Homo sapiens: one gene and its partners. The protein of the gene in region 2 purifies or fractionates together with the protein of the main gene of each other region. This does not show direct contact. Each region holds a gene or a part of one and is shown on either strand. Other genes may lie near its edges. The genes, in order: SCAMP1, HK3 and SLC2A8.

Region 1 (3,723 bases), about 98 Mb from region 2:
GAACAGAGGCAATGGGAACAGTTGAGGAAAATGAACAATAGAAAAAAGGGCAACTGAATTGGCTCCTATTAATCAGATTAAATGATATATAAGGCCACCAATGCAAGAATATTTTCTAATATCTTAAATGTTATAGGAGAATGAGGTCAAAAGATGTGATTAAGAAATTCTTTATAACTCAATTTGCCCTTACATGCTATCAGGCATCTTATTAATCTCCTTTCTTCTCAGATTTTTGCCATCTTCTACCTCCTAACACTGTTATTTTACCATTGCAACGCTCTCCCAATAATATCTATTATTCCATCATTTTTACCTTAATGGTAGTGTGCATTAAAAAGTGGGACCAAAGGCAATAAAAATTTATCCACTGAGATGATACATAAATTCAATAATTCCTAATAATGGAATAAAGCAAATGGTATAAGCTGACAAAAAGAGGAATGAGTATTTGAAGGGTGACAAGACAGCAAATCCAGACTTGAAAGTGAGTTAAAAATTAAGCAACAGAAATGTAACCATATAAAGATTTATTTTGCTCTGAAAGCAAATGTTATTGATATTATAATGGCCAATATGAATTTATACAACTAACATGAACTAACCTTTGCAATCTGTGTATAAGCTGGATGTTCCTCTGTTGGTTTCATTATTGCTGGTTGTGTATTGGGTACATTAGGCATCTTCACACCGCCTGGTGGAGGCTAGGAGGATTAAGAGAAGGAAAATTATGTAACACAGAGATCCAACTTTAACTTCTTTCAAAAAGTATAACACCAATAAAATGAAAAATCCCAAAATCTGCATCTCTTCATTCCCTGCTCTCTCATAGTCAAGTGTGTGGCAAAGAGCTGCTTAAATTCTCCATCTCCATTTTCTCCAACTCATTCATTTTTCAACTCTACAATCAGACTGCTACTTATAACACTATATGACAAACACTCTCCTCCAGGATACCGTATGTTAATAGAGGCCAGGCATGGTGGCTCATGCCTGTAATCCCAGCACTTTGGGAGGCCAAGGCGTGTAGATCACCTAAGTCAGGAGTTCAAGACCAGCCTGGCCAATATGGTGAAACCCCGTCTCTACTAAAAATACAAAAATTAGCCGGGTGTGGTGGCGGGCACCTGTAATCCCAGCTACTTGGGAGGCTGAGGCAGGAGAATCACTTGAACCGGGGAGGTGGAGGCTGCAGTGAGCCAAGACTGTACCACTGCACTCCAGCCTGGGCAACAGAGCAAGACTCCATCTCAAAAAAAAAAAAAAAGAACTTTTGAGTTTAATAGTAAAATACAGATAGAACCAGACAAAAGAACTACACCAAGGTTTACTGCCAACTCTTCCCTCTTGAGAAAGCTACATGCCAGTGCTCTGAAGAGTATACAGGAAAGTTCTTGGTAGAACCCCACTAAATTTAAAAGAGTAAAAGGGAAGGCGTAAGGAGAGAGAAAATAAATTACCCAACTTCCACTTTGCCAGTGAGGATCAGTAGTGTCTGAAAGCTGCAAGATCAGGAAGTAGACATCTACAAGTCCATCAATGGGGGATTGGTTAAATTACTGTATATACATACAATGCAGCCATGAGAATAAATTAGCGATAGAAGAATGTCTTTTAAAATACTAAATAAAATAAAGCAAGCTGGCCGGGCGCAGTGTCCTATGCTTGTGATCCCAGTACTTTGGGAGGCCGAGGCAAGTGGATCACAAAGTCAGGAGTTCGAGACCAGCCTGGCCAATATGGTGAAACCCCATCTCTCCTAAAAATACAAAAATTAGCCAGGTGTGGCGGCGGGCGCCTGCAGTCCCAGCTACTTGGGAGGCTGAGGCAGAAGAATCGCTTGAACCCGGGAGGCGGAGGTTGCAGTGAGCTAAGATCGCACCACTGCACTCCAGCCTGGGAGACAGAGCAAGACTCCATCTCAAAAAATAATAATAATAATAAAATAAAAATTAAATTAAAAAATAAAGCAAGCTACAGAACAGTCTGTATATGACCTTTTTTTCAACAGACACAGATTTATACATGCCCCCATAAAATATCTGGGAAGTCTCGGCCACCTGATATCAGACGGACTTGCACCTGTTGTTTTATATGCCTCTGTATTATTTGCTTCCCTCGACACATGCACCATATACTACTTTAATAAAAATATATTTTTAAAGTACTCTTTAGAATGACCATAAGAAAAAAACAAAAAACAAGGATGGGAACATGAAAAGAACAATAGAAGCAAAAACAGTAACAGAAAAGAAAAGAAGAAAGGAAAGAAAGAGAAGAGGGAGGGAAGGGGGAGGTCATAAATAAGAAAAATATAAAAAAGAAAGAAGCTGCACAAGGACGTTCAAGGATCTTAAGAACTATTAAAACCAGAAGACACCACCAATATATAGCAGGATTTTACTCTGACACAGCTAACAGCAGCCCTGAAAAGGAAGCCACGCATAACCAAAGATATAACTGTAGTTCAGCTGATTCTAAAATGCATATACAAAAGGCAAGAACCGGCTGGGTGCAGAGGCTCACACTTGTAATCCCAGCACTTTGGGAGGCCAAGGTGGGCAGATCGCCTGAGCTCAGGAGTTCGAGACCACCCTGGGCAACATGGTGAAACCTCGTCTCTACTAAAATACAAAAAATTAGACAGGCATGGTGGTGTGCACCTGTAGTCCCAGCTACTGGAGAGGCTGAGGCATGAGAATCGCTTGAGCCTGGGAGGCAGAGGTTGCAGTGAGCCCAGATTATGCCACTGCACTCCAACTTGGGCTACAGAGTGAGAGTCTATCTCAAAAAAAAAAAAAAGGCAGGAACTAAAAACAGGTCAAACCATTTTGAAGAAAAACAAAGTAGGAAGACCTATGATATCAAGGCTTATTATAGAACCACAGTAATTAAGAGTGTAATACAGATGCAAGGACAGAGAAGTGTACCAATAAACAAAACAGACACAGAAACAAACCCACACAAATGCAGAAACTTGATATCTAACAGAGGTGTCACTACAAAACAGTGAAGAAACAATGTGTTAATCAATAAACGGTGCCTGGATAACTGGTTACTCATATAGGAAAAAAAAACATTTCTTACTTCGCATCATATACAAAGATTAATTCGAGGTAAATTCATGATCTAAAACTGAAAAAGCAAAACTTAAACACTTTCAGGGAAAAATACATGTGAATATTTTTATGAATATTTCTTGAGCTTCTAGAATATGAACTCTAGAAATACTGTGTATTTTGTTTATGACCTATCCCAAGTACCCAAAATAGTCCCTGAAACAGTAGATGCTCAGTAAGTATCTGTCAAATTAAGAATGGAAAACACACACCACACAAAATTGACGAATTTAATTACACTGAAATTTACAAAAAGTAAAAAGTCAAATCATGGACTAGGAAAAGATAGTTGTAATGCATATAACAGAAAATTGCTACCCAGAATATATAAAGAATTGTTACAAATCCATGAAAATACAAACTAATCGAAAAACTAGCAAAAGATCTGAACAAGCAATAGAAAGAGGTCAATAAACATGTGAAAAGAGGTGTAACAGCACTAGTAATCAAGAAGTGCAAAAACAATCATATATCATTTCAAAACCATGAGATAGAAAAACAAACTCTGACAATACCAAAATTGGAATTTACACAATATACACAATGGTGGTGCATATGAAAATTAAAGCACTGATCAAGATAGCATTTCAAGTCAATGGAAATA
Region 2 (3,723 bases):
GCCAGACACGGGCACCAACGCGTGTTACATGGAGGAGGCACGGCATGTGGCAGTGCTGGACGAAGACCGGGGCCGCGTCTGCGTCAGCGTCGAGTGGGGCTCCTTCAGCGATGATGGGGCGCTGGGACCAGTGCTGACCACCTTCGACCATACCCTGGACCATGAGTCCCTGAATCCTGGTGCTCAGAGGTGACCTGGCAGGGGGCCCTGACCTTTGGTTCCAGGCCCTGTCTATGACTGCTCTGCTCCCAACCCCTTCTGTCCCTGTTCTCAGGCCCTTAGGCCCCTCCCTGTCACTCTGAGGGTCTCCAGGGAGCAACCTGGGGGCCCTGGCCAGGTTCAAAGAAGGAAGGGCCCAAAGTTCTAGAATCCAGAATTGTCAACCCTTGATCTTCCCTGTTCCTGACTCTGGCCTGCCCTGACAGTTTGGGGGTTGAGGGCTGGAAGTGGTTGAGCAAACTGCTCTCTGCCTTCCTTTGGGTCCTTCTTGTTCTCCAGGAGGCTTCTGAATGTAACCTATGTCAGAGGGGGCAGTGGGGTCTGGGCATACACCCACCTGTCCTCTGGGAGGCTATTCGTTGCTTCTGGAGTCTCCAGTTTGGGAGCCCCAAAGAAAAGAATCCTTCTTTGGGAACTCTTGGAGGTAGGGCCAGGTGGACTGAGGGCTTAGAAAAGGCTTCCTCCAGCCACCCTTCCCCCCTGCAGGTTTGAGAAGATGATCGGAGGCCTGTACCTGGGTGAGCTGGTGCGGCTGGTGCTGGCTCACTTGGCCCGGTGTGGGGTCCTCTTTGGTGGCTGCACCTCCCCTGCCCTGCTGAGCCAAGGCAGCATCCTCCTGGAACACGTGGCTGAGATGGAGGAGTGAGTCGGGGAGATGGTGGTTTAGTGGGGGATTCTTGGCTTGGAGGAAGGGGATGATACTCTGTTCCCAAGGTAGCCATGGGGCTTTAGTGGGATGGGGAGCTTCTGGGCTGAGCCCCAAACCACTTCCCTTTCCCCTCCAGCCCCTCTACTGGGGCAGCCCGTGTCCATGCTATCCTGCAGGACTTGGGCCTGAGCCCTGGGGCTTCGGATGTTGAGCTTGTGCAGCACGTCTGTGCGGCCGTGTGCACGCGGGCTGCCCAGCTCTGTGCTGCCGCCCTGGCCGCTGTTCTCTCCTGCCTCCAGCACAGCCGGGAGCAACAAACACTCCAGGTTGCTGTGGCCACCGGAGGCCGAGTGTGTGAGCGGCACCCCAGGTATTGTGGAAACGTGATCCGCATGATTAGTTGGCATGAACACGTGTGTGTGATACACACCCAGAGGGCCCTCTGGGATCACATGTGCAAGCCAGTGGACACGAAGGGCACTTAGGCAGAGGGAGGGCCAGACTGAGCTATGGGAGGCCAGAAGACATCCAAGGAGAGAAACGATGCTTCCCTTTGTGTGTGCAAGGGTGGAGGCCATGGCGACACGGGGGCGTATGGCTGGTGCACAGAACAGATTTCAAATTGAAGTGATAGGGGAGGCTGGCTATGGTGGTACACGCCTGTAATCTCAACACTGGGAGGCTGAGGTGGGAGGATCATTGGAGCCTGGGAGTTTGAGGTTACAGTAAGCCATGATCACTCCGTGGCACTCTAGCTTGGGTGAGAGAGCAAGACTCGATATCTACAAAAATAAAAAAAAAAAAGTGATGGGGCCTTGGGCTTCAGGAGGCCCTAGGGGTCTGGGGCCAAGCTGGGCACACCTGTATGTATCTGGGGGTCCAGGGCCAAGCCGTGCACACCTGTGTGTGTCTGGGGGTCCAGGGCCAAGCCGGGTGCACCTGTATGTATCTGTAGGTTCTGCAGCGTCCTGCAGGGGACAGTGATGCTCCTGGCCCCGGAATGCGATGTCTCCTTAATCCCCTCTGTGGATGGTGGTGGCCGGGGAGTGGCGATGGTGACTGCCGTGGCTGCCCGTCTGGCTGCCCACCGGCGCCTGCTGGAGGAGACCCTGGCCCCATTCCGGTTGAACCATGATCAACTGGCTGCGGTTCAGGCACAGATGCGGAAGGCCATGGCCAAGGGGCTCCGAGGGGAGGCCTCCTCCCTTCGCATGCTGCCCACTTTCGTCCGGGCCACCCCTGACGGCAGCGGTAAGGACCTGGCCTGAGTGTGGGACCGAAACATGGGCTCCTGGGGGTCCCAGTGTGTGCTGGGGCTGGAGCCACAAGCCCTATCCCGGCACTGAGGGTCTCTGCCCCCACAGAGCGAGGGGATTTCCTGGCCCTGGACCTCGGGGGCACGAACTTCCGTGTCCTCCTGGTACGTGTGACCACAGGCGTGCAGATCACCAGCGAGATCTACTCCATTCCCGAGACTGTGGCCCAGGGTTCTGGGCAGCAGGTACCCACAGCCTGAACCTTGATGTCAGAGGTGGGGAAGGGCTGAGCAGTGCCTACGCCTGACCTGTCCTGCCCCACAGCTCTTTGACCACATCGTGGACTGCATCGTGGACTTCCAGCAGAAGCAGGGCCTGAGCGGGCAGAGCCTCCCACTGGGTTTTACCTTCTCCTTCCCATGTAGGCAGCTTGGCCTAGACCAGGTGAGGGAGGGCCAAGAGAAGTGATTCCCAAGGGCCTCCTGCCCCCACATACCCTTCATGGAGTGGGCAGGAGGCAGGGGAAAAGGCTGGGCGGTGGCGGGTCTGGGGTTGGTGGTGGTGGCAGCACTGCTGGGCTGGGCTTGCACACAGCCTCAGTTTCCCCAGACAGGGTAGGCCCAGGGTTAGGGTCTGAACCATTTGGGAGCAGGTCAGGCCTAGACTGGGGCTGATCAGAGGACAGATCGTCCATTTTAGCTATAGCACTGGTGTGTGGGCCTCAGGGTCCTGCAGGAACCAGCATTTGTTCCTGTCTCTAGCAGGGGCTTGAGGTCGCTTGGGGTTTTTTTGGCCTCTCTCCTCCTCCTTTCTTTGTTTCCTTCTCAGTGCCTGGCTCAGTGTTGGGTGCATGACTAGGGTGGCAGAGTGCCAGGCACAGGCTAAGACACACATCCCTACTCAGCACACACTTTAGCTTGTTCTTACACAAGGATGAGGGACTTCTCAATGTGCACACCGGAAGCCTGTCACGGAAACAATACCTCCCGGGCCTCTGGTCCAAACTCCCAGGAATCTCCCTTTCAACATACCCAACTTCTGCTTGAAAGCCTCTTGCCAAGGAGCTCACTGCCCCTGAAGGCAACAGTTGCATTCTTAGACACCTGTGATCAATGAAAAGCTTCATCTCACCTACTCCAACCAGCCTCCATGTGATTTTCACCCCCTGCTCCTGCTCTGACCTCTCTCTGATATGCAACTCATTTTTTTTTTTGAGATGAAGTCTCACTCTGTCGCCCAGGTTGGAGTGCAATGGCATGATCTTGGCTCACTCACTGCAGCCTCCACCTCCTGTGTTCAAGCAATCCTCCTGCCTCAGCCTCCCAAGTAGCTGGGACTACAGGCACATGCCAACACGCCCAGCTCATTTTTAGTAGAGATGGGGTTTCACCATGTTGGCCAGGCTGATCTAGAAATCCTGATCTCAGGTGATCCGCTCACCTCAGCCTCTCAAAGTTCTGGGATTACAGGCGTGAGCCACCGCACTCCACCTGATATGCAACTCTGTACTCTGCTTTCTTTTACACGGTGGTCCTTTGGATGGTGCAGTGGGCCAGTCTTGCTGCTTGGCTGCTCTGCTCCAGGCTAAGCCTGCTCAGT
Region 3 (3,500 bases), on a different chromosome or scaffold from region 2:
GTGAAAGCTCTGCTCTGACGGATACTGGCCATCAGGATTTCTCTCTCCCCTCCCGCAAGCGGCCCCCCTCTGGGGGTCTACTGTCCTAAGGCTTGGGGAGCGCTGACTCCCACGTCTTGGCTCCTCATCCCAGCACCCCCTGTGTCCTCAGGTGTGCAGACAAGTCCCAGCCTCCCCATGTGTCAGGTGAGATGACCCTCACCTGCCCAGGGCACTTCCTGATAGGTGGGGGGGAGCCACAAAGAGGTAATCTGGGCAAAGAGCAAGCTGCTGCCCTCATCCCTGCCACCACCAACACATCCAGCACCTGCCTCAGGTCTGGGCCTGGCCCTAGCTAAGCACCTCCTACAGCCCTGACCCTCCCCTCCCCACTGAACCCATCCTCCTCGCTGACCCCACCCTCCCCACTGAGCCCCCCTCCTCCCTAAGCCCCGCCTTCCTTTCCCCCACTGAGTCCCACCCAGCACTGTGAAGCAGGTGCTGACTCCCACATCACAGGTGAAGAGCTAAAGCTTAGGTGAGGGGCAGCGTGGGGGCTTCAAACCCATGCCTGGGTGACTCTAAAACCCAGACTTTTAGCCCTCTACCCTGCCTTGCAACTCCTTTGTTAAATCCAAGTCCTCAGCTCTGCCTCTGTATCCCCCACCAGGCCTGGCCATTCTCTTCCTGGGACAGTAAGGGTCAAAGCTCGGGCTTTGCTGGTGACTTTGGAGGCCAGGGCCCAGCTCCGTGGGGCTCCAGCTGTCTTGGCCTGCTCAAAGACAGGACACACTGGGCCTGTCCTCGCTGAGGGTGGAGGGTGGATAGGCACCTCCCTGTCCCCCACCCCCCAAGTGTGTGGCCTTGGGAACAGGCTGTGCTACCCTCCCGTGACTGCTGTCCCACTCCTGTCAGCTCTGCCTTCCAGCCTCTCACCTGCTCAGCCCCGATGGGGGGGTCTTCCCAGCCCTGCTCGGAGCCCCACAGGAACCGCAGGGCGGCCATGGCCTCCTGGCGCCTGTGCTGAGTCAGCAGGAAGCGCGGGGTCTCGGGCATGAAGCACATGAGAAGCAGCATGAGGGAGGGGGGCACGCAGCCCAGCACAGCCAGCCAGCGCCACTCCAGCACCCAGCCTGCGGGGGGTGGGTGGAGGAGGCTGGCGTCAGAGCCAGGGTGAGCCAGCCTGGGCCTTGCCAGCCTCAAAGACTCAGCTTCAGAGATGGGGCCTCGCTGCCTCTGCACATCTGCCCTCATGTTCGCTACTGACATTGCCATTATCACAACTGTTCATGAAGGCACATGGCACGGGCCAATCACACCAGCTGCGGAAGCGACAGTGGGTATGACAACGCGGACATTACTAGGCTGCATCCGTTCAACGAAACATTTATGTAGCCACAAAAATGAAGGATGAGGTGCTTGCTGCGTGTCCGCATGGTATGATGTGGCACCATTTGTAGAAGAGGTGGGGGAGGGAGGATAAATATGCATGTCCCTCATATGAACAGACTCTCTGAAGGCTACCAAGAAACAGGCAATGGGGACTCCCCCAGACAAGAAAGGGACAGAGGCGGAGGAAGCTTTTCACTGGACATCTCTCCACTCTGGCACTTGAGTGTTGAGTCATTTGAATGCATTATCTATTCAAAGTATACATGAAAGTAGAGAGGTGAGAGGATTTTGCTGTCTTGACGTATGAAGAACAGCATAAGTGCAGAATTACCTAGTTTTATATAAAGTTAAAAGGTTCTCTTACAAAGGGGCCCTGGAATAAATGAGTCTAGGGCATTGCTGCTCTAATTACTAATTTTTCCTAAGCCCAAGGCTTACCCATCCCTGGTTCCCAGTGGAAAAATACCTCTAAGGTAGCCATGATGTCCCTATTTTTCTTCTGTGCTGGGGGTGCAGACAATTGTTCTATGAAGTCTAGTCGTTGGAACATGATTGCCCCAATGTGAAGCAAACGTGCCACCACCATGTCACTTTGTGGAGTTATCAGAGTTCACCCACCCCAGTGGATCGAAACTCACAGAAATTGATCAGGAAAGGCAGGAGAAGCAACAAGCACATATTAAGATGAGCTGAAGATAGTGCCACGGGTGGGTGGACACCCAGTACCTGTCCCCGAAATGATGAATGTCAACACCTGCACACAGTGGGGGCTTTGGTTTACTCAGGTCTCCCAAGGTAGCCAGATCGCTGGCAGGATTCTGAATTTGTTAGGGTGGTTAAGTGGGTAAAAATGAAACACCAAAGACCTGTGTATCATCCGCCCTGACGATGCAGAGGGCTTGTGCCCTGGGCCAGGCCATAGCCCGTCAGGCCCCCGAGGCCTCCTACCCCGATGATCCCCATGGTTCTCAAGTCATCCCTTGACAATTCTCATTTGGAACCCACTGTTAGGCACTTTTCATGTGTCAATTAATTTAATGGACAGGTACTGGACTAGATGAGGTTATGCCCATTTCAAGACAGAGAAACTGAGGCTTTCAGAGGTGGTATGACTTGGCCAAGGTCACACAGCACGTAGGAGAGGCTATCCCCAAACTCAGGATGGTCAGATTTGAAGCCTGCCCTTGTTTTTTCTTTCTTTTTGAGACAGAGTCTCACTGTGTCGCCCACACTGGAGTGCAGTGGCGCGATCTCAGCTCACTGAAACCTCAGCCTTCTGGGTTCAAGCAATTCTTGTGCCTCAGCCCCCCAGGTAGCTGGGATTACAGGTGCCCACCACCACGCCTGGCTAATTTTTGTATTTTAAATAGAAATGGGTTTTCACCATGTTGGCCAGGCTGATCTCGAACTCCTGACCTCAAGTGATCCGCCCACCTCTGCCTCCCAAAGTGCTGGGATTACAGGTGTGAGCCACTGGGTCTGGCCTCTAAAGCCTGGCCTCTTTCTAATGAGAACACACCTGTCTCCTGAAGTTTCTTCATGCTGGCCCAGCTTTGCCCCTCGGGGTCCCCAGGACCCCGGCCTCCTTCACGTTGCAACTCGCCGACATGGTGAATCTGGCACTGACATTCTCAGGGGACTTGCTCAGCCCTTTACTCGCCCGGGCTGAAGATTTTTACAGGGACCCACCCACCTCTGGAGCCCTCTGGTTTGTCACTGCACAGTAAGGTACTGACCTAAGCAGTCAGCCCTTCCCACACCCCTAGAGGGGGCTTCAGGAAAGCTGAGGGTATCACCTTCTCCAGCTGTCCCTGGAACTCAGTCATAAGACACACCTATCGGCCGGGCGCGGTGGCTCACACCTGTAATCCCAGCACTTTGGGAAGCTGAGGTTTGGCGGTTCATGAGGTCAGGAGATCAAGACCATCCTGGCTAACACGGTGAAACCCCCTTTCTACCAAAAATACAAACAATTAGCCAGGTGTGGTGGCACATGCCTGTAGTCCCAGCTACTTGGGAAGCTGAGACAGGAGAATCGCTTGAACCCAGGAGGCAGAGGTTGCAGAGAGCCACCACTGCACTCCAGCCTGGGCGACAGAGCGGGACTCTGTCTCAAAAAAAAAAAAAAA

What was found.
Region 1: the proteins of HK3 (region 2) and SCAMP1 fractionate together in Homo sapiens (co-fractionation; one large-scale study listed by BioGRID). This does not show direct contact.
Region 3: the proteins of HK3 (region 2) and SLC2A8 fractionate together in Homo sapiens (co-fractionation; one large-scale study listed by BioGRID). This does not show direct contact.

The regions. Positions count from the first base shown.
Region 1 is NC_000005.10:78,412,501-78,416,223, reverse strand, and holds part of SCAMP1 (secretory carrier-associated membrane protein 1), read right to left. Parts: intron 705-3,723; coding exon 606-704; intron 1-605. UniProt on the Homo sapiens protein: Functions in post-Golgi recycling pathways. Acts as a recycling carrier to the cell surface.
Region 2 is NC_000005.10:176,885,847-176,889,569, reverse strand, and holds part of HK3 (hexokinase-3), read left to right. Parts: intron 1-5; coding exon 6-189; intron 190-705; coding exon 706-861; intron 862-1,004; coding exon 1,005-1,238; intron 1,239-1,823; coding exon 1,824-2,119; intron 2,120-2,232; coding exon 2,233-2,369; intron 2,370-2,448; coding exon 2,449-2,568; intron 2,569-3,672; coding exon of another isoform or gene 3,673-3,723. UniProt on the Homo sapiens protein: Catalyzes the phosphorylation of hexose, such as D-glucose and D-fructose, to hexose 6-phosphate (D-glucose 6-phosphate and D-fructose 6-phosphate, respectively).
Region 3 is NC_000009.12:127,400,169-127,403,668, reverse strand, and holds part of SLC2A8 (solute carrier family 2, facilitated glucose transporter member 8), read right to left. Parts: intron 1,113-3,500; coding exon 916-1,112; intron 10-915; coding exon 1-9.